2 separate regions of the Homo sapiens genome follow, and region 2 is linked to region 1. Evidence: fine-mapped expression QTL. Tissue or cell type: whole blood. Region 1 holds a variant in brackets; the other region holds the start of a gene. All regions are shown on one strand. Distances are between the middles of the regions.

Region 1 (9,452 bases):
TGCTAAGCCAGTGCACACCTCTGAACTGAATGTTGAGAACTGAGCTGAACAGTCTTCACAAAACAAATGCAGCTTGTAGTAAAAGATCGTGCAGGATGATTTCATTTCTCTATAAACAGCAAATTTATAGAGACAGAAAGTAGATCAGCGGTTGCCTAGAGCTGGGGGTAGGAGTGGGTATGAACCGAAAATGGACATGAGGAAACATTTTGGGGTAGTGGAAATGTTCTAAAACTGGATTGTGGTGATGGTTGCACAACTCTGCAAACTTACTAAAATTATCAAATTGTACACTTAAAGTGGGTGAACTTTATGATATATAAATTTGCCTTAATAAAGCTGATGTTGTTTTAAAGTTAGTGTAGGTAACTGATTTAAATTGGTATGCCAAATAGCACTGGTTAGTATCTACTTTAGGATCCTGACTCCACTGCTCGCAAACCATGTGAACTGAAATAAATGATTTCACATCCCCCAGCCTCAATCTCCTCATCTGTAAGTGGGTGATGATAGTGCGTATCTCATAAAGCAGAGTGCCAGTTAAATGAGATAACTTACAGATTCTTAATGCATTTTATTTTACCTTAGAAATTAGAATGTGAGAAGGTAGGCAGGTGTCAGTGTTTATCCTTTCTTGGCTTGGGGAGGGGAGGTCATTCTGAATTTTTCAATGAGAATGATCTGGAAGGCACATGCTCTAGCACTGTCTTTCAGACTCTCAGACCCACCCATTCCCCTGTGCCCAGTGGTTTCACATTTCCAGTCTTCGTTTCCAGGGGCCTTGGACATTGACAGCCACCTCTTTCTGGGTCGAGTTGCAAGGATAAAAGGAATAGTATTTGTTATCAGGCAGAAGGAGCGAGTGGCAGACTGCAGGAGCTCCAGGACCCTAGGTGACTGACTGTTCCAGACTGGCTGCCCTAGGAGACGCTCTAAGGCAGACATAATCGGGACAACTGAATGTGCAACATGGGTCCCTGATGCCCAGGTAAGCCCAGAAAAGTCAAGGCTGACTATTGGGAGCAAAATGAGATAACTCAAAAGTAGCAGTGTGGGAGAAAGAGGGATGGGCCCAAGGCCAGTAAGAGGGTTTGTTCTCTCCTTGTGTGTGGAGTGCACTTATGCTGAAGTTTTTAGGGACATGGGATGGACAGGATGAAGTAGTAGCAATTATTATCATTATTCTTTTTTTTTGAGATGAAGTCTCACTCTGTCGCCCAGGCTGGTGTGCAGTGGCGTGATCTCGGCTCACTGCAGCCCCTGCCTCCAGGGTTCAAGCGATCCTCCCCCATCAGCCTCCCAAGTAGCTGGGATTACAGGCATGCACCACCATGCTCAGCTAATTTTCATCTTTTTAGTACAGACGGGGTTTTGCCATGTTGTCCTGGCTGGTCTCGAACTCCTGACCTTAAGAGATCCACCCGCCTCAGCCTCCTAAAGTGCTGGGATTCCAGGTGTGAGCCACAGAGCCCGGTCTAATTCTTAGCGGAAAGAGGCATACGGTTGTATTCTTTGTACCCTCCCAAACCCCTCCCACTCTGTTCTTGGCAGGCCTGTTCATTCATTCATCCCACATACATTACCAAATTCCTGCTCTCACAGACCTTATATTGTAGTGGAAGACAGATCATAAAGAAATAATCAAATGACTCTATAACCTAACTGCTAACAAGGAAAGGATGTGCAGGAGGCGAGATGGCTTAGACTGAGTGGTCAGGGAAGACCTCTCTGAGGAAGTTACATGTTAGCAGGGCTTTGAGGGAGCAAAAGAAACAAAGCTTGGAAGAAAGAGCACTCTTGGCAGACAGAAGAGAGCATGCAAAGGCCCTGGGTTTGGTGTCAGCTCTGTGTGTTCAAAGAGCACAAAGAAGCCAGTGTAGCTGGGACAGAGTGAGATGGAAGCAGGGTGGTAGGAGATTATTTCAGGGTGATGGTTAGGGCCCAGACCTACTAGCTTTACTGGCCATGAGAAACACATGGATTTCATTTCAGATGTGTTGAAAAGCCATTGGAAGAGTTTTGAACAGTATAGCAAGTGATCTGATCTTGAGGTTATTCCAGCTGTTGTGAAGAATATGAGCTGGGCATGGTGGCTAATGCCTACAATTCCAGCACTTTGGGAGGCCAAGGTGGGAGGACCACTTGAGGCCAGGGGCTGGAGGCCAGCCTGAGCAACATAGTGAGACTCCATCTCTACAAAAACTACAAAAATGAGGTGGGTGTAGTGGTGCATATGTGTCGTCTCAATCAGGAGGCTGAGGTAGGAGGACGGCTTGAGCCCAGGAGTTGGAGGCTACAGTGAGCTATGGTCGCTCCACTGCTCTCCAGCCTGGGCAACAGAGCGAGACTGTGTCTCTAAAAAAAAACAAAGAATGTATAGAAACTTTCTCACCAAACTGCTACAGGATTCCACACCAAAGTGAACAGCCTTTCTACCTGAGAAAGTCTCATGGCCTTGTCTAAGGTGGGAAGAAATATGGGCTATGGACTCTGACTTGCTGGAATGAGGAGATGGGTCTCTCCTCCCATTTTCTCTTCCTGATGGATCTTCTCTTTCCCACTTAGGCCTCGTGTATAGGTGTGTCTCCCTCTCCTTTTTTGCCCTGAGAATCAATGGGTTTGTTTGTAGAGGTTTACCTTTAGAAACAATTCAGGCCGGGCATGGTGGTTCAGGCCTGTAATCCCAGCACTTTTGGGAGGCCGAGGCGGGCGAATCATGAGGTCAAGAGATCGAGACCATCCTGGCCAACATGGTGAAACCCCGTCTCTACTAAAAATACAAAAACTAGCCAGCTATGGTGGCGCACGCCTGTAGTCCCAGCTACTCAGAGGCTAAGGCAGGAGAATCGCTTGAACCCAGGAGGCAGAGGTTGCAGTGAGCCGAGATCACTCTACTGCACTCCAGCCTGGGTGACAGAGTGAGACTCTGTCTCAAAAAAAAAAAAAAGAAAAGAAAAGAAACAATTTGGTCCCCATCAATTCTCTGATATTGAGTCTTGAAAACACTGAAAAAAAATGTTTATTAAGATTTGGAAGAAATTTGCAATTTAAAGTATTTTAACTGAAAAGAAATCAATTACCTCCCTGTGTGCCATGAATGCTAATTCTCTTTGTTTTTTTAAAACATCTCTTCAACTCTAACCAGATCTCCACTGCCTAAATTGAAAGAAGACCCTAGGTAAGGCTTTCTAGCCAGAGATAACACTTCCATAAAATAACCAGAGGAACTAGGGCATAGAGAGGCTGTACTCATCTGCTTCGGCTGCCATAACAGTGTCAGGGTGTCTTAAGCAACATAAATGTATATTCTCCCAGTTCGAGGCTGGAAGTCCAAGACCAAGGTGCCAGTGGGATTGGGTTCTGACGAGACCCCTCTCCCCTGCTTGCAGACAGCCACCTTCTCACTGTGTCCTTGTGTGGCCTTTTCTCTGTCTATGCTTAGGAGTTGGGGGAGCTCGGATGTCTCTCTCTTCTTTTAAGAACACAAGTTCTATCTAATTAGGACTCCAATCTTATGGTCTCATTTAACCTTAATTTCCTCTTTAAATGCCGGATCTCCAAATACAGTCATATTGGGGGTTAGGGCTTCAACATATGAATGTGGGGGTGTGGGATGGGGGGGTAGCCCACTTCATAACCGAAGTTCTCAATAAATATTCAGTAAAGATATGGGTAAATGAATGGATTTCTCTGGACACCCTGAAACTATCAGAGACCTCTGATGGAGCATGAGGTAAAGACAGTGGCTCAGGCAGAGAAATTATAGACCCATGAACTAAATGAACTA[G/AATGAACTAG]AACCTATATAAATCAGTAGCGTTCCTCTACATCGGCAATAACCCACTAGAAAATGCAATAACAGGTAGGACTCAGTTCACTGTAGTAACAACAATCATAATATCTCAAATTTTACCTAACAAAGAATATATATATAAGACCCCTATGAAGATGATTTAGAAATGCTATTAAAGCATATTGTAAAAGGAATAGAGGCCGGGCGTGGTGGCTCACAGCTGTAATCCCAGCACTTTGGGAGGCCAAGGCAGGTGGATCACTTGAGGCCAGGAGTTCGAGACCAGCCTGGCTAACATGGTGAAACCCCATCTCTACTAAATATCCCCCCCACCCCCCAAAAAAATATCCAGGCTTGTTGGGACATGCTTGTAATCCCAGCTACTTGGGAGGCTGAGGCAGGAGAAACGCTTGAACCCGGGAAGCAGAGGTTGCAGTGAGCCAAAATCAAGCCACTGCCCTCCAACCTGGAAGACAGAGTGAGACGCTGTCTCGAAATAAAAATAAAATTAAATAATAATAATTTAAAATATCCTTCTAGCCAAGCCAAACACATGTAAGGGACTAAGTTGGCCTGTGAGCCACTAGTCTGTAACTCGTTGTGAGTATAATGGGCATGAGGCTTGTTCCTAAACGTTGGGGTGTGGGAGGCAGAAGAATACAAGCAGACTCTCCCCGTCCCACATGCTGTTACCTCTCCACCTCTCTGCAGGCAGCTTTCCTAAGGTCCTGGACCTTCAGATCCTTGCTGGAGTTGAAGGCAGAAATGTTCTGGATCTGCAAAACAGTTAAGGGATATTAAGGAATATTAAGATAGCCACCCCCAAAACTAGGGCATCCTCCTAACATTATCCACGGCTGATCAGTAACACGTGGGATAGAAATTTGAGTTTATTACTTTATAGCAGTATAAAGCAATAGCAAAGTTAATATAAAATCACTCTCCTGTCAGGCCTGCACGGCGTCAGCTCATGGGTCTCTAAGACCCGAAAATTGAGAGCGTTTTTCGCACCCCAGGGGCTGCTCCTGGCAGCTCTGCGGCGTCAACATGCCACAGAACAAATATATTGAATTACACTGTAAACACCATGGATACTGTTTGGATTACCATGAGAAAAAGAGAAAGAAAGAAAGTCGAGAGGCTCATGAATGTTCAAAGAAGGCAAAGAAAATGATTGGTCTCAAGGCTAAGCCTTACCATAAACAGGGCCATGCTGAGAAAATACAAATAAAAAAGACTATCAAGATGCATGAAAAGAGAAACACCAAAAAAAAAAAAAAATGCTGAAAAGACTCCACAGGGAGCAGTACCTGCCTATCTGCTGGACAGAGAGGGACAATCTCGAGCTAAAGTACTTTCCAGTATGATCAAACAGAAACGAAAAGAGAAGGCGGGAAAATGGGAAGTCCCTCTGCCTAAAGTATGTGCCCAGGGAGAAACAGAAGTATTAAAAGTTATTCGAACAAGGAAGAGAAAGAAGAAGGCATGGAAGAGGGTGGTTACTAATGTCTGCTTTGTTCAAGATGGCTTTACAAGAATACCACCTAAGTATGAAAGATTCATCAGGCCAATGGGCTTGCGTTTCAAGAAAGCCCATGTAACATATCCTGAACTGAAAGTCACCTTTTGCCTACCAATATTTGGTGTAAAGAAGAACCCGTCGTCCCCACTGTATACAACTTTGGGTGTTATTACCAAAGGTACTGCCATGGAGGTAAATGTGAGCAAATTGGGCCTTGTGATGCAAGGCGGCAGTTATTTGGGGAAAATATGCCCAGGTTACCAACAATCCTGAAAATGATGGATGCATAAATGCAGTCTTACTGGTTCGACAGCAATTTCATATATAATTATTGAGGACTACGCACCAATTGAAAAAACTGCCATTACTGTGATGTTTCTGAATACTACCAAACAGCCATACATGTCTGCAATCATCAAGAGATTTATTAAATTGCAAACATTAAAATGGAAAAAAAATACAAAATCATTATAAAAATAATAATGCTTTAGGACTCTAACTTCAAACATTCCTCTTATCTGCAAAGGTTAGAAAAGATCACTTTCCCTTTAAATATGCAAAGAGAAAATGTTTCCAGAATTAATTTGAAACCTTTGTAGCCCTTTAGCTGGAAGAATCACCCTACTAAAAATGCATCAATAGAAACACTAATCAACCAGTGAATGTAAAATTATAAACCAACATGTGTATTAAGAGAAAGAAAAGTAGGGAATGTGCAAGGATTTTTAGTAGACTGGGAGTTTAGACTTCCCCCATGAAAGCAACCGGCACTGACAACAGAAAGAGACTGGGATTCACTGGGAGAAGAAAAGAGCATTGCAGCTTGGAACAGACCTAAGGCCGAAAGGAGGGCAGAGCATTGGCAAAAGTCAGCCAAGGAGGCTGGAGTGAAGGGAGCAGGGGAAGGAATGACGCCTGATGAAGCAGGAGGGGTGTGAACCTGAGTGATTAGAGCTGTGTAGACTGCAGTTAGCCACCCTAGGGTTTCAAGAGGTGGAGAAGGAGGATCATCATCAGCCTTATGCTGAAGATAATGACACTGGCTGTAGTGTGATTCATGGGGTAGGGGGGTCTGAGCCGGTGCGGGGCAACCAGACTTGCAACCACTGCTATGATCGGGAGAGGATGATAGTAGCTTGGGCTAGTGTGCGGGGTGCAGTGGACGTGGAGAGGAGTAAGCAGAAGTGCAAGCTATTGAGGAGGTAAATTTATCAGACCCGTGAGTGGCTGGATGTGGGCGGGGAGGGAGAGTCCATGCTTGGGCTGACTCCTGACTTTCTCGCTCTGGTATTGGGACGTGTGCAGACGCATTCCCCCAGACAGGAACACTGAAGAGGAATGAATTGGGGGGCAAGAGCATGAGTCAGTCTTGGACAACCTGACTTGGAGGTGCCTTTGCAATCTCTGAGTGAACCTCTGGCCTGTTTCCCAGTTCACAAATCCCTCACCTGTAACAGTTACGATAAAAATGGCAGGAAGTTAGCTCCTAGGTGTGGAGGAGCAGAAGAGAGACTCGGACGGGGACTCTCCATTTACCCCACCACCCTCCCTGGAGCCTCTCTGAAAGTTACTCACTGAAGATACTTTGTTTTTTGGTCTAGTTGAAGAAGGAGAAACTCAAATGTGTTCTGAAAAATAAGTATGGGGCTTTCTTAACAAGGCTATGGCATACTATCCACTCTTTCCCCTCCTGCCCTGGAGGGAGTGGCTGGCCACTCACACTAAACTTAGAGAATCAGCTGCAGCAGGAGGAAAGGAGGAGAGCCAGAACTCTGGGAACATTACCTGAGAATGAGGACTGGCCAGCGCCTCGCATAGGGAGAGAATTCTCCTGCCTCCTATCTTCAATCAGCCAGAGGAGCAACTTTCAGTTCCCCCATCACAGCACACTTCTTCATTCTTGTGGCCTCACATGTGCTGCCCCCTCACCAGAAACACCCTGCCCTTCCTCCTCTCGTACATCCCTTTCATCTGCATGGGTTCTTCAGCGTATTTTATTCAGTGCTCAGATACCATATCTTTCTGGAGGCCTTTTTTGATGTCTTACAGCTGGGTTCAATGTTTGTGGCAGAGACTGCTAATCGTCTACACATCCATTCTCTTGTCTTTTTTTCTTGGTACAAGAACCCCTAATATTGGGCTGAGCATAAAGTGCTTGGTATAAAGTCTACATTGTCCAATATCTTTTGCAGCTGGATGAGACCATTTGGCTAAGCTCTGGCTAGTAATGTGAAAGTGGAAATGTTTCCAGCTTCTGGGATATGATTTTATAGGGAGAAGACATGCCTTTCTTCCCCTTCCTCTATATGAATATGATGGCTGATTCTTTTTGTTCTTCTTTTTTGTTTTTGTTTTTGTTTTGAGATGGAGTCTCACTCTGTCACCCAAGCTGGAGTGCAGTGGTGTGATCTCGTCTTACCATAACCTCCGCCTCCCAGGTTCAAGTGATTCTTCTGCCTCAGCCTACCGAGTAGCTGGGATTACAGGCACACGCCACCACATCTGGATAACTTTTTGTATTTTTAGTAGAGACGGGGTTTCACCATGTTAGCCAGGATGGTCTCGATCTCCTGACCTCGTGATCCACCTGTCTTGGCCTCCCAAAGTGCTGGGATTACAGGCGTGAGCCATCATACCTGGCCGATAGCTGATTTTTTAGTCACTAGCTTGGACTAGGAAGACATAGACCACACCCTAGGGATGGTGAAGTTTTGCACTAGAAAGAGACTGGATTCATTTCCTTTTTTTTTTTTTTTTTTTTTTTTTTTTTCTGAGACAGAGTCTCACTCTGTTGCCCAGGCTGGAGTGCAGTGACGTGATCCTGGCTCACTGCAACCTCCACCTCCCAGGTTCAAGCAATTCTCTTGCCTCAGCCTCCTGAATAGCTGGGACTACAGGCATGTGCCACCAATCCCCAATAATTTTCTTTTTTTGATAGAGACTGGGTTTCACCATGTTGGTCAGGCTAGTCTCGAACTTGTAGCCTCAAGTGATCCACCTGCCTTGGCCTCCCAAAGTGCTGAGATTACAGGCATGAGCTGCCACACCTGGCCTGGATTCATGTTCTAATGACTTTATGGAGCTATTAGGTATTTTGCACTGTCTACCTCTTGCTTTCATTTGTGTAAAAGGGAAGTCAACTCCCATCCTGTGGAAGGCACTGTTATTTTGGTTACATGCAGAAAAACCTAATCCAAATTTACACAGTGTTCCTCCCATGTGTTTATTCCTATGAAAACACTTAGACCCTACATTACCAATTACTTACCTGAGTGAAAAAAAGTCTGTCCTGCCAGAGTTGACACTCTTCTTCTTATGCAGATGGCTCCAAAGATGTCCTCACCTAACATAACTCATATCTGCAAGTGTTCAGTAAGGAACCAGAAAGCCAGTTATCCAAAGGCAATGCTGTCAAACCACTTCAAATGTTGCTTTCTGGTCTCGGGCTTGATAGTCGCTAGGTGATGCTATGGTTAGGATTGTGCCCATTTCTCCTCCAGTGCAAGTTCTGTCTCTTGGATGGAATAGTCAGTTGATACCACCAATAAACCCGCAGAAAACAGGAAGACAAAAAAAAAGCACGTACAACAAACATCTTAAAAATTGTATCTCCTAGTCAACACATCCTGTGTTGTAGGATTTGGAAAACCATAAGTAATTTTAAAAACTCGGATGGTTTGGCATTTGGAATGTTGAAAGCAATCTGGAAAATCCCAATAGTCCATTTGTGTCTCTATCATTAGCTGAAGAAGCAAATGGTCAAGATGAATTTCAGTAGGATCAGAGGAGTGAGTGTATCCGGTGGATTGGCTCACACCTAGCACCATTATTGAGGTTGGTGATACACCCTTGAACAGACTCTGCCAATGAATCTGTGCTGATTAATTCACTTTTTTCCCCAGAACCTTTCCAAGGTCAAATATTGTTTATGATGGTGTTTTATATTTTTATACCAAGCGTTTCTGCCTTAATTGACTCATCTGTAATTGATAGTCTTCAAGTATGAGCCAAAATAATAATGGCCAAGAGATAGAAGCACATAACCTGGACAATATCTTAAAAGTCAGAAATTTTAAAAAATTCAAACATTATCAATATAATACTGTCCAAATATCTGGACAAATCTGATAATCTCATAGGTTTGAGG
Region 2 (10,904 bases), 36 kb before region 1:
TGGGAAACGGTCCCAGATTAGAGGAAATGAAAGAGGCATGACAAGGAATGTAACACATCCTGGACTGGATCCTGGACCAGAAAACATCTTTTTTTTAAAAGATCTTTTTGGCCAGGTGCAGTGGCTCATACCCATAATCCCAGCATTTTGGGAGGCCAAGGCAGGCAGATCACCTGAGGTCAGGAGTTCAAGACCAGCCTGGCCAACGTGGTGAAACACTGTCTCTACAAAATTACAAAAGTTAGCCAGGCATGATGGTGGGTGCCTGTAATCCCAGCTACTCGGGAGGCTGAGGCAGGAGAATTGCTTGAACCAGGGAGGCGGAGGCTGCAGTGAGCCGAGATTGTGCCATTGCGTTCCGCCCTGGGCAACCGAGCAAGACTCCATTTCAAAAACAAAATAAAACAATAAAGATCTTTTTTTCTCCTCTTTTGCCATGAAGGACATTATTAGGTCAATAGATGATACATGAATAAGGCCTGTTGATTAGATAATAGCTCTTAATGCTAATTTTCTGATTTTGGCACTTATACAAGAAAATGTCCTTTTTAAAAGGAAATATACACGAGTATTTAGGTGGACAAAGGTGTATCATGTCTACAACTCACTCTAAAATGGTTCAGGGAAAATGACAACATATGCACTTGTGTGTGTGTATACATATGTGTGTTCATACATATGTGTGTGAATAAACACACAGATACACAGACACACAGAGAGAGAATGAGAGAATAGGATAGAGCGAGAAAGGTAAAACAAGTGTGGTAAAAATTAATATTTAGAGAATTTGGTTGAAAGGTATGTTGGGAATTATTTTAATTATTGCGACTTTTCTTTTTCTTTTCTTTTCTTTTTTTTTTTTTTTTTTTTTTGAGAGACGGAGTCTCGCTCTGTCGCCCAGGCTGGAGTGCAGTGGCGCGATCTCAGCTCACTGCAACCTCCACCTTCTGGGTTCAAGCAATTCTCCTGCCTCAGCCTCCTGAGTAGCTGGGATTACAGGCGCTCACCACCATGCCCAGCTAATTTTTGTATTTTTTTAGTAGAGATGGGGTTTCACTATATGTTAGCCAGGCTGGTCTGGAACTCCTGACCTCAGGTGATACACCCGCCTTGGCCTCCCAAAGTGCTGGGATTACAAGCATGAGCCACTGTACCTGGCCAGTTATTGCAACTTTTCTATAAATTTGAATTATTCAAAGTAAAAGGTTTAAAAAGGGGAAAAATGATTACAGAAGCCAGGAAGACAAGGTAGAGACAAAGCAGTCAGGCTTCTGAGTATTACATTCTGAGTGAAATGTGGGCAACAGCTCAGGGCCCAAAATATAGATTTGAAGTACCTGGGGGCCCTGGGTAAACAGGGTTAAAAGTGGGGCTCTAAGGTCAGACTGGTGGAGTCCCTTTCCCAGGTCTGCTCCTTGAAAGCAGTGTTTTCTTTAAGTTATTCAAATCTCCCTCCATTTCAATTTCTGCACCTACATAACGGGAGTAATCAGAGTCTCTGCCTCACAGAGTTGGAGTGAGGATTAGAGGAAGTAGTACAAGTGGGCGAGGGCGCCCAGTGAGGCGCGGGGAAAGTGCCCAGTGCTCTTTAAATACTACTGCGGGCTCAGAGGTGAGGCTGGGGCAGGGGGAAGGGAGGAGGAAAAGGAAAGGAAAGACCAAGGACAGGATCTCACAGCATCCCCGTGTCTACATGCCAGGAAGAAAAAGGAAACAAATGAGGTTCGAGTGGGCCTGGACAACCAGTGTCATGGAGACAGGGAGATACAGAGGCGCAAAGGGCTGACTGCTGCCAGGAGACGCAGGGCAGGGACCAAGGAAGGGAAAGCCAGGGCAAAGGCCTCAGATCTGCAGCCAGGACACCTATGCCAGAGCCCTCTGAGGAAGCAGTTTCAACAGAAAGATGAGGGTGAAACCAGAATAGGTGAGTGGACAAAGAAGAGAACCTGAGGACAGTTCAACAGAGTAGCAGGGTCAAAAACAGTGCTACCCCATACGATAGCCATTGGCCCTATGTGACTACTTCAATTGGATTTAAGTTAGTTTAGAATTTACTAAAATGGAAAACTTGGTTCCTCAGTCATACTAGCCACACTTCGTGTGCTTAAGAGCCACATGTGGGCAGTGACTACCATACGGAACAGTGCAGATATAAAATATTTTTCTCACCGCAGAAAATTCTACTGGACAGAGCGAGGACCCCACCAGAGTTTCTTATGGGAAGGATGACCCATATGGTGGAGTAAGGGTTGGGGCAGAGTAGGGAAGGACCAAAGACACTGGAGAAGAGGAATAACAAATGCAGCCAGTTCCCAAAAGAGGTGAGAAGGAAGGAATCAAGTCCAGAGAATGAAGAGTGTGGATTGCATGTGGATTAACCTTGGGGAAGGGACTTGTAGACATTTTCTTCCTTTGAGAAAGACGAAATAAAGAAGGACAAAGAGAGGAAGAGAAAGATGCTTGGGGGCCTTGAGGAAGGTAAAGTGGGAATTTATCTGGTGAAATTAGAGCCAACGTAAATTTTCAATGGAACCTGTCCAAAGGTCTTTGTGACTTCCTCCTAGATAATGTGGCAGGCTGGGAGAAGAATAAGCAGGCAAGCGGGGGTGATTTTGGATTGAGGACTGAAATATAAGAAGCCCAACACATTGAAACAAAGGATTCTGGGATCCCAGACAGAATGGAAATGGCCAGCAACTTACATGCCCCAAGTGGAGAAACAGAGTCACAGAGGGGCTGAAGGATTGGAACAGCAAGTGCTTAAGGGACCAGGGTCCTCAGCGATGGTTAAAATCCAGAGCAGTATGTGGGTAGTATCAGCTAAGTAGGCTGAAGTCCGAGTTCAAGATCTCAAAGGTTTAGTCTTGTTCAAGACTGAACAAGTCCAAGATGTTAGTTGAAGCAAAGTGGAAACTGAGGCTACTGGGATAGATGTTGAGGAACTTCAAGGTCAAAGAATTAAGAGAGCTTCAACACAAAACCCAAAGTCACTGGCAAGAGACAAAGCAGAGAAGAGAATGAAGCTGGCTGCTCACGTTTTTTGTTTGTTTATCCCTTTTTTGGGGCATCAAGTGAAGAGATCCCCACTGTACCTGGGTGTACATCAGAATTGCCCAGAGAGTTCTGTTCCTTCTCTTCATCGTCTCCTGCTGCTCCTCCTTTTGGGGTTTGTTTTTAAAGTAGGGATTTTTAGGTCTTACTCCCCCACCCTGCCCCAGCCCCCAATGATTCTAATTTGGTATATCTGAGAGAGTCTAAAGACCAAGTTTTTCAAAATGTCCCAGGTGATTCTGAGGAGCCCCCAGGTTTGGGAAGCACTGGACCAGAAGATAAGAAGGAGGGTAGGGGCACAAGCAGATAGCACTACCTTCCGAGAGGAGACTTGGTTGGTGATGGTGCATTGGTTTGGAGGCAGCACTAAGGAGAAGCGGAAGAGCATCCCTACTCTGGTGAGACGGTGGAGGACACTAGAGAAGGCTCTTCTGCGGCAAGTTGTTCACTCAGGCTCTGGTGCTCGGGAGAGAAGGTGGGTTCAGCTACATAAAAAATGAAAATGCAAGAGTGTGGCTGCAGGATACAAGAAACAAGACATTTAAAGCCAGGTCGGAGTGACACAGCCTAGTGGCCTGCAGAGAGAGGAGGCTGAATAATGCGCTAATAACGTTTCCAAGCACCATGTAGTGTGGCTCATTAAATGGTTGGTAGGGCTTCATGGTTGAATTCCTGGACACTAAGTATTTTTCTATCCGTATGCTATCAGATTTCTAACATGTAACACATTAAAGGTTATTAAGCCCTCAGGTAAACAAGCTTGCAGAAGCTTATTCATTAGCATTGGAAACTGTGTCTTCCCAACCCACGTTCTTATACAGATGAAATCAGATTCGAATGAAAATCAAGGGTAGCTTTAAGTAGAAAGTCAGAAGGGGCAACCAGGGGTACCTGTGAGAGGGTACGTCCTCCATTCCCCTCCGTGGAAGAGGGAAGTTTATAGACAGTGGATATGGAAGGGGGCCTAAGTGTCCTTTTTAGTACCAGTCAACGCTAAAAATATTATAAGTGCCAAGGAACCCGCCCCCCCCAACACACACACACACACATACACACACGCGCATTCAGTGACAGGGCCCAGAAGGCAGATACAATGTGCAAATCTGGGGATGGTTCTCAATAAAGAATATATTTACTCTACAAACCTCTTATTTTAAAAGCAAGTTGCAAATGTTTGCCCTTGCTTCTGAGAGAGCTGCACTTTTGTGGATTCGAATCATTCTAGCATTATTTCTGGTTACTCCTATGAAATAATTTCCAACACTGCCGTACGCAGACTTTGAGCTGAGGACGAGAGCGCACGCGCACACACGCACACACACACACGCGCGCACACACACACATAAACCTCGTGCACATTGAAGAAATGACTCACTTAATTTGCTGCTGCCTGCCACGATTGGGTTTTGATTTTACCTGTTCAAATACAAAGTTTCCTATTAGATTAACTACAGGAAAGAAGAACTTAGGAGCATTAATCCTGATTTTGTTCATGTCTTTAGGGCACCAAAGAGGTTTTAACCTGTGCATCTTAAGAAGCCATTCTCCGGACCACCGACTGCTTGCTCCATAATCTTCCAGACAACGATAACATTTCTTACCACTTTAGGAGCCAATTAATGGAAACCCCTCCTAGAATAAACATGGTTAAGCTTTGCATCTCCGGTACCTGCAGAACCGTACTTTAGGGCTCTTTCTCAGCTCGCAGTAGGATGGCACAACAGCATTCTGGAACTGCAAAGACCCCCTAGCCTCTCGTTTGAAAGATGAGAAAAAGCGAAGGGGCGGAAGAGCAGATGGTTAACCTACCCAAGGTCACTCACTCTGAGTAGTGGGTCGGCTGACTCGCCTTTACCCCTGGCAATCCGTGCACCACCCCAGCTCCCCCAAACAGTCCCTCCGGGCGTCGGTTGGTTCGCTAGCATGCAGCCCCCGCGAAAATGCAACGCCAGTTGCGCTCTGTGCCCAACTTCAGCCCTTCGCGTCACATGCAGTTAACCCTCTCGCCCGCGGCATGTCACATGGGCCACGCGCAGCTCTCTCTACCCCACGCCTATCTCCTGAGAGGCTGCCCCAAGGTCACCGGCCGTCCCAGAGAGCTCCCGCCGCCCAGCCCCAGAGGCCGCCCGGCCGGGGTTCCCAGAGCGCGGCACTCACCGGCGCGGGGGGTGGGCGCGCCGCGGCTGCCCATGTCCTCGCCGGCGCGGCTGGGTGCGGCGGCCGCTGGCGCTGGCTGAGCAGGGCGCCCGGCTGCGGGCCCGCGCCGCGGGGAGCGCCGTCCAATCAGCGCGCGCCTGCCGCCTGGCCCGGCGCGCGGCCCGGCCGGGTTCGCGGCTCCCGGGGGGCGCGAGCCGCCGCGCGCCGCCGGAGCCGCTTCCGGGCGCGTTGCCTGGACGCGGTTGCCGTGGCAGCCCGAGCTGGAGGCTTTCCCCGCGCACCCGCGCCCAGCCTGGCGGCGCCGCCCCTCCTCCCTCCTCGTTCCCACACCCAAAATAGCCTCTGCTCGTCGCTGCTGTTTCCCACAGAGCTCGCATCCAAGCGCCTTGGAGTTGGCGGGCGGGGATTTCGCTCATTGGAAAATAAATCCTGTTGTAGGGATGGTTGATTTGGAGAGGTGTTGAAATGGTGCCTGACGGAGATCATAGCCATGGTGGTGGCACTGCAATTCTCTCTAGAGCCCCAATATACCTTATTTACTAAACCGCTTTCCCACAAAAATAGTTCTCTCCCCCGCCCCACCTCAAATTGGGGAGAAGTTATTTGATTAGGCCACGGTGACGCCCCACCTGTGCAGGTGAACGAACCCTCCGGGGCTGCCATGTGTCATTTACTGAATCGCCTTGACACCTGCAGTTGGGACCCAGGATCGTGTCTCATCGCAGCAGACACGACGAGAAGAAGAACCCCGAACACCCCTCCTCTTCCCAGCCCTTTCTTCTCCCGTCAGCTTCATCCCCTCCCAGCGCGTCCTGGCTCTTTCCACCTTCCTCTCGATTTTGGATTCTCATCAGGACGCACAAGCCCATTCACTCATAATTGTGCTTCCTCTCGGTGGGCAGGATTTCAGCGGAGTTGCGGGGGACACGACCTTTGCCTCATCTGGTTCGTGCCTCCTTCGCAGATACTGGTACTTACCCAGCACAGGGGCTCCTGTCTGTCTCCCCCACCCCGCCCCAGCCTGAGCCCTTCCAACCCAGGGGAAGGAGCCCGACATGGTAGAAGAGCCCGAACTGTGGATTCGGCTGAGCGGTTTTGGAATTCTCTCTCCGGCAGCATTATTATTTAGGGGCTATTAGTATTAAGGACTGTTATTTGTGTGTGATCTTTGAAATATTTGTGGGTATTCTGCGACTGTTTCCTCACCAGTAAAACGGGCTAATAACTTCCACAAAGCGCTAACGCATCTGTAACATTCATTCAGCCAACAGTATCTATTGGATGGCTGCCAAGTGCTAGAAACTATGCTTAGCCCTGAGACACAATGGTGAAGATGAAAAAGAGACACATCACTTTCTGATCCCACAGAGCTTAGAGCCTGACGAGCATTCATCAAATAATCACAGACACATGTTAACACTGCCGTTGTGACCAGGAGAGTAATGGCCTTGAGTCTTGTGATGTGTAGATCTGGTATAACAGCATCTCTTTAGTGCTGCAAAAGCTCAATGATTATTCTTTCCTTTCTCGGTTAGATTCCCACTGCCTGGTGCATGGTATGTACTAGGTAAATACATATTGAATTGGATCCTATGTCATGGTGATGACACTGTCACTCTGCTTCCCAGTGACCTTCTGGCTGTAACTGGCCACAACATCTGGAAAGGTGTGCATGTGTTAGCAGAAAGTACCCATTCAAACCTAGAGTCCATCACCAAGAGTCTAGAAAAAGGTTCAAAATATTTCTTGCCTGTCTCCATCGGGGTGCCTTTCAGTGCATATGGAGAGCATCTCAGATGGACACATAACGTCCCCTCTGTCTTGTTTCTTCCTCTTCTTATTACTCTACCCTTTCCCCGCCCACCCCAATACTGACCCTACTCCCTCTACTACTTGAGGTGCCAGAGCCTCAAGGCACCCCTTCCTGGCTTCCTAGGAGAGTGATAGTAGATCCTAATATTCCTCAGAATGGAACACCTATAAAACAGAGGAAGTGCCTTCTTACTTCTGGCCATCAAAACTGAACTTTGATTTTTCATTTGCTGCAAGACTCCCTCACTCTCAAAGGTAGGGAAGGAGAGGACCTGGAAGGTGAGGGGCTCTTGCCATATGTAGGCACCTTCTATTTAGGCTGACTTTCATTTCCTTTTTAAAAATCATAACAGTTAGCAAATAAGACAAATAATTGTATTAATAATTATTTCAAAACATGAATTTCTCAGTAAGAACCGGGCTTTCAAAGTGGTCTTGAATCAGGCCCATGACTTCCCACTTCTTATTTATCTTTTTTCTTAAGTGATTTGTTTTGAATCCCAAGGGGACAAAATTTAATGCACAATGATTAAGCCTACACTAGTTTCTTTCCAACTCTTTCCCTATTTTTGTAGGCTAAATTGCAACGAAATATCCATTTTTTCCAGAATCACTTTGATTGTAACTCATTACAGGAGATGGAGATTTTCTTGCATTACTTCAATTAAAAAGCCATGATTTATCACAAATTATTTTATGCTGCAAGGATTACCAAAAAAATTATCAAAGAGAACAATTCTATATACTTGATGGCTGTAATACTATTTACAAAGCAGTTATTTAAATACAAATAATTTGTTCAGTATATTATGCTAGACACCATGGAAATTCATTTTTCTTCTTTCTTTTGAGACAGAGTCTCACTCTGTCACCCAGGCTAGAATGCAGAGGCTCTCGATCTTGGCTCACTGCAACCTCTGCCTCCTGGGTTCAGGTGATTCTCCTGTCTCAGCTTCCCGAGTAGCTGGGACTACAGACGTACGCCACCATGCCCAGCTAACTTTTTTATTTTTAGTAGAGAGGGGGTTTTGCCATGTTGGCCAGGCTGGTCTCGAACTCCTGACCTCAGGTGATCCGCCGGCCTCGGCATCCCCAGGTGCTGGGATTACAGGTGTGAACCACTGCACCCAGTCCACTGTGGGAATTTTTTTGTTTTGCTTTGTTTGTTTGCTTGTTTGTTTGTTTGAGACGGAGTCTTGCTCTGTCGCCAGGCTGGAGTGCAGTGGCGTGATCTCGGCTCACTGCAACCTCTGCCTCCCGGGTTCAAGCAATTCTCCCGCCTCAGCCTCCCGAGGAGCTGGGACTACAAACATGCACCACCACGCCCAGCTAATTTTTGTATTTTTAGTAGAGATGGGGTCTTGTCATGTTGGCCAGGATGGCCTCCATCTCTTAACCTCGTGATCCACCTGCCTCAGCCTCCCAAAGTGCTGGGATTACAGGCATAAGCCACCAAGCCCGGCTGAAATTGTTTAAGTGATTTATTCCACGGCTGAGCTCTGGTTCTACTTTTGTCTCTGCACTGCCATTAGTCATGAAGATGAGATACACACGACATCTATAAGGATAGTAAGTAGGCTCCTCTAGGTAGGTAGAGGTCAAGGGCTTGTGTAGGTCAACGTGGTGTTTATAAGAAGGCTGGAAAGCAGTTGGGCCAAGGCTGTGGTGAGTTTCAGATGGATAAAGAGTTAGCACTTTGTTTTGTCCTCAGCAATTCTCAACCGTGGTTTGTCGAGATCCATTGGGAGGAGTGTTACACGTTGTTCATTCTCAATAATAGAGTGCCAAAGAATTTGACCACAAGGAACAGTCATATGTAGGAACTAGCAGGAGAAAGAAGGTTCCCACAGGGAGCAATGAGGAAGACCCAGAGATGTAAGAGTGAGGACAGTGTCAGAGAAGACACAGATGAGAAGGCTCAAGGGCAGAAAGTTTCCAGGGGACAAGTCCTGCAGAAAGCCAAGAAAATTTAGTGAATAGAAAGTCACTGGTGACCCTCAGGAGTGTTTTTTAGTTATCAGATTGCTGTGGGTTAAGAAAAGACTGGATGCTGTAGAAATGCAAGAAAGGTGTAGGTCACTCTTTAGAGAAGTTCGGCAGTGTAAAGAAGGTGAGAAATAATATCCATAGAGATCTGTAGTGGCCAGTGGATGTTTTTAAGATAAGGGAAAATAGTCTCTGCATATTTATATACAGTTGTAGGGCTGCAGACAAGGAGAGCACAATGCATCGTTTTGCACTGAGTAACTCAATCTAAATTCTACCATTCCTTTCATTATTGCCATATCCATTTTCCTTTTCAAAAATGTTTCATCGGGCCAGTTACGGTGCCTCACACCTGTAATCCCAGCACTTTGGGAGGCCTAGATGGGCAGATAGCTTGAGGCTAGGAGTTCAAGACCAGCCTGGCCAACATGGCGAAACCCGTCTCTACTAAAAATGCAAAAGCTAGCCGGGCATGGTGGCAGGTGCCTGTAATCCCAGCTACTCGGGACACTGAGACACGAGAATTTTTCAAACCTGGGAGGCAGAGGGTGTAGTGAGCCTAGATCGCGCCACTGTACTTCAGCCTGGGTGACAGAGTGAGACTCAAAAGGTCCCAAAGGTATTATGTCTCAAAAATAAAATGTTTCACCGAATAAGAGAAATCTTACATTGAACAAAGGTGGGGTTCAGACCTTGGGACGTTATTCTGTGAATAACCAACTAAAAACTTGGGTTAATAACCAATTAACACAATACGTCACTCTTTATGGCTGTTCTTTATCGGTTTCTTTGTTGCTAATAGTAAAATAGAATTAAGAAAATTCCTTTTTTCCTCTTTTATTTATAGAAATTATAGATTTTTCATACGTTTTGAATAAACTACAATTGGCTCTGTTGTTTTTGCTAGTAATTTTTCTTCATGTATAGGCTCATTCTCTCAAATATTATGTTTTGCTTATGAATTCATTGGTGGCTAATCCATCTCGCAATAATGTTTTTGAAGTAGTTATGCCTAAAGTACAACCAGCAGAGAAAGCACAAAATATTGAGAAGATCCTTTTAATAATGTTTACGTCTTAACTTAGATAATTGCAGTTGTACATAACAGGGAAAGTTCAGCCTCAGGGTGTATTTATATAGCATACAAGTGAGCCCTCAACATAACACTTTCAAGAGTGAAATCTGAAATAAAGAAGTCTTTCTACAAAGAGTTTGTGGCCAGAAATCCTAAAATAGCCTGACCTCATGATCCATCCACCTCGGCCTCCCAAAGTGCTGGGATTACAGGCGTGAGTCACTGCACCCAGCCCAATTTTGATTTTTTTTTTTTTTTTTTTTTTTTTTGAGACGGAGTCTCGCTCTGTGCCCAGGCTGGAGCGCAGTGGCGCGATCTTGGCTCACTGCAAATTCCACCTCCCGAGTTCACACCATTCTCCTGCCTCAGCCTCCCGAGTAGCTGGGACTACAGGCACCCACCACCATGCCCAGCTAATTTTTTGTATTTTTTTTTTTTAATAGAGACGGGGTTTCACCGTGTTAGGGAGGATGGTCTCGATCTCCTGACCTCGTGATCTGCCCACCTCAGCCTCCCAAAGTGCTGGGATTACAGGCGTGAGCCACCATGCCCGGCCTGATTTTTTAAATATTGCATTAAAATACTATTTATCTTGATCATTGAGTTTGCCTTAAATGTCGCACCTTAAATTTTGCCTCACTCACCTCCCCTCAGCCCTGGCCCTGTTGCAATCATAGCCAATGTTTATGTCAGACCCTGTGCTAAATGCTTACTTGTAGTACTTTATTTCTTTTTTGCAACAGCTTATGAATAAACTTAGGCTTAGAGGTATTATGTAACTTGTCCAAGGTCCCAAAGCTATTAAGTTCTAGAGCTAGAATTT

Evidence for each region. PIP is the estimated chance that this variant, and not a neighbour inherited with it, causes the effect.
Region 2: it holds the start of FAM81A, and the variant in region 1 is fine-mapped to the expression of FAM81A in whole blood (INTERVAL, PIP 0.96).

Annotation. Positions count from the first base shown.
Region 1 is chr15:59,397,383-59,406,834 of GRCh38, reverse strand. It overlaps a transcript of FAM81A not described here and the pseudogene NSA2P4. Among named protein-coding and RNA genes, the nearest start is that of MYO1E, 29 kb to the right of the region's middle. RefSeq lists a silencer at 4,691-4,985 and enhancers at 6,470-6,549, 6,920-7,259, 7,400-7,509. The variant G/AATGAACTAG (reference allele first, on the strand shown) is at 3,788.
Region 2 is chr15:59,432,587-59,443,490 of GRCh38, reverse strand. FAM81A (family with sequence similarity 81 member A) reads right to left here and starts at 5,305. Exons shown (of 9, transcript NM_152450.3): 1 at 5,209-5,305. RefSeq lists a silencer at 5,078-5,607.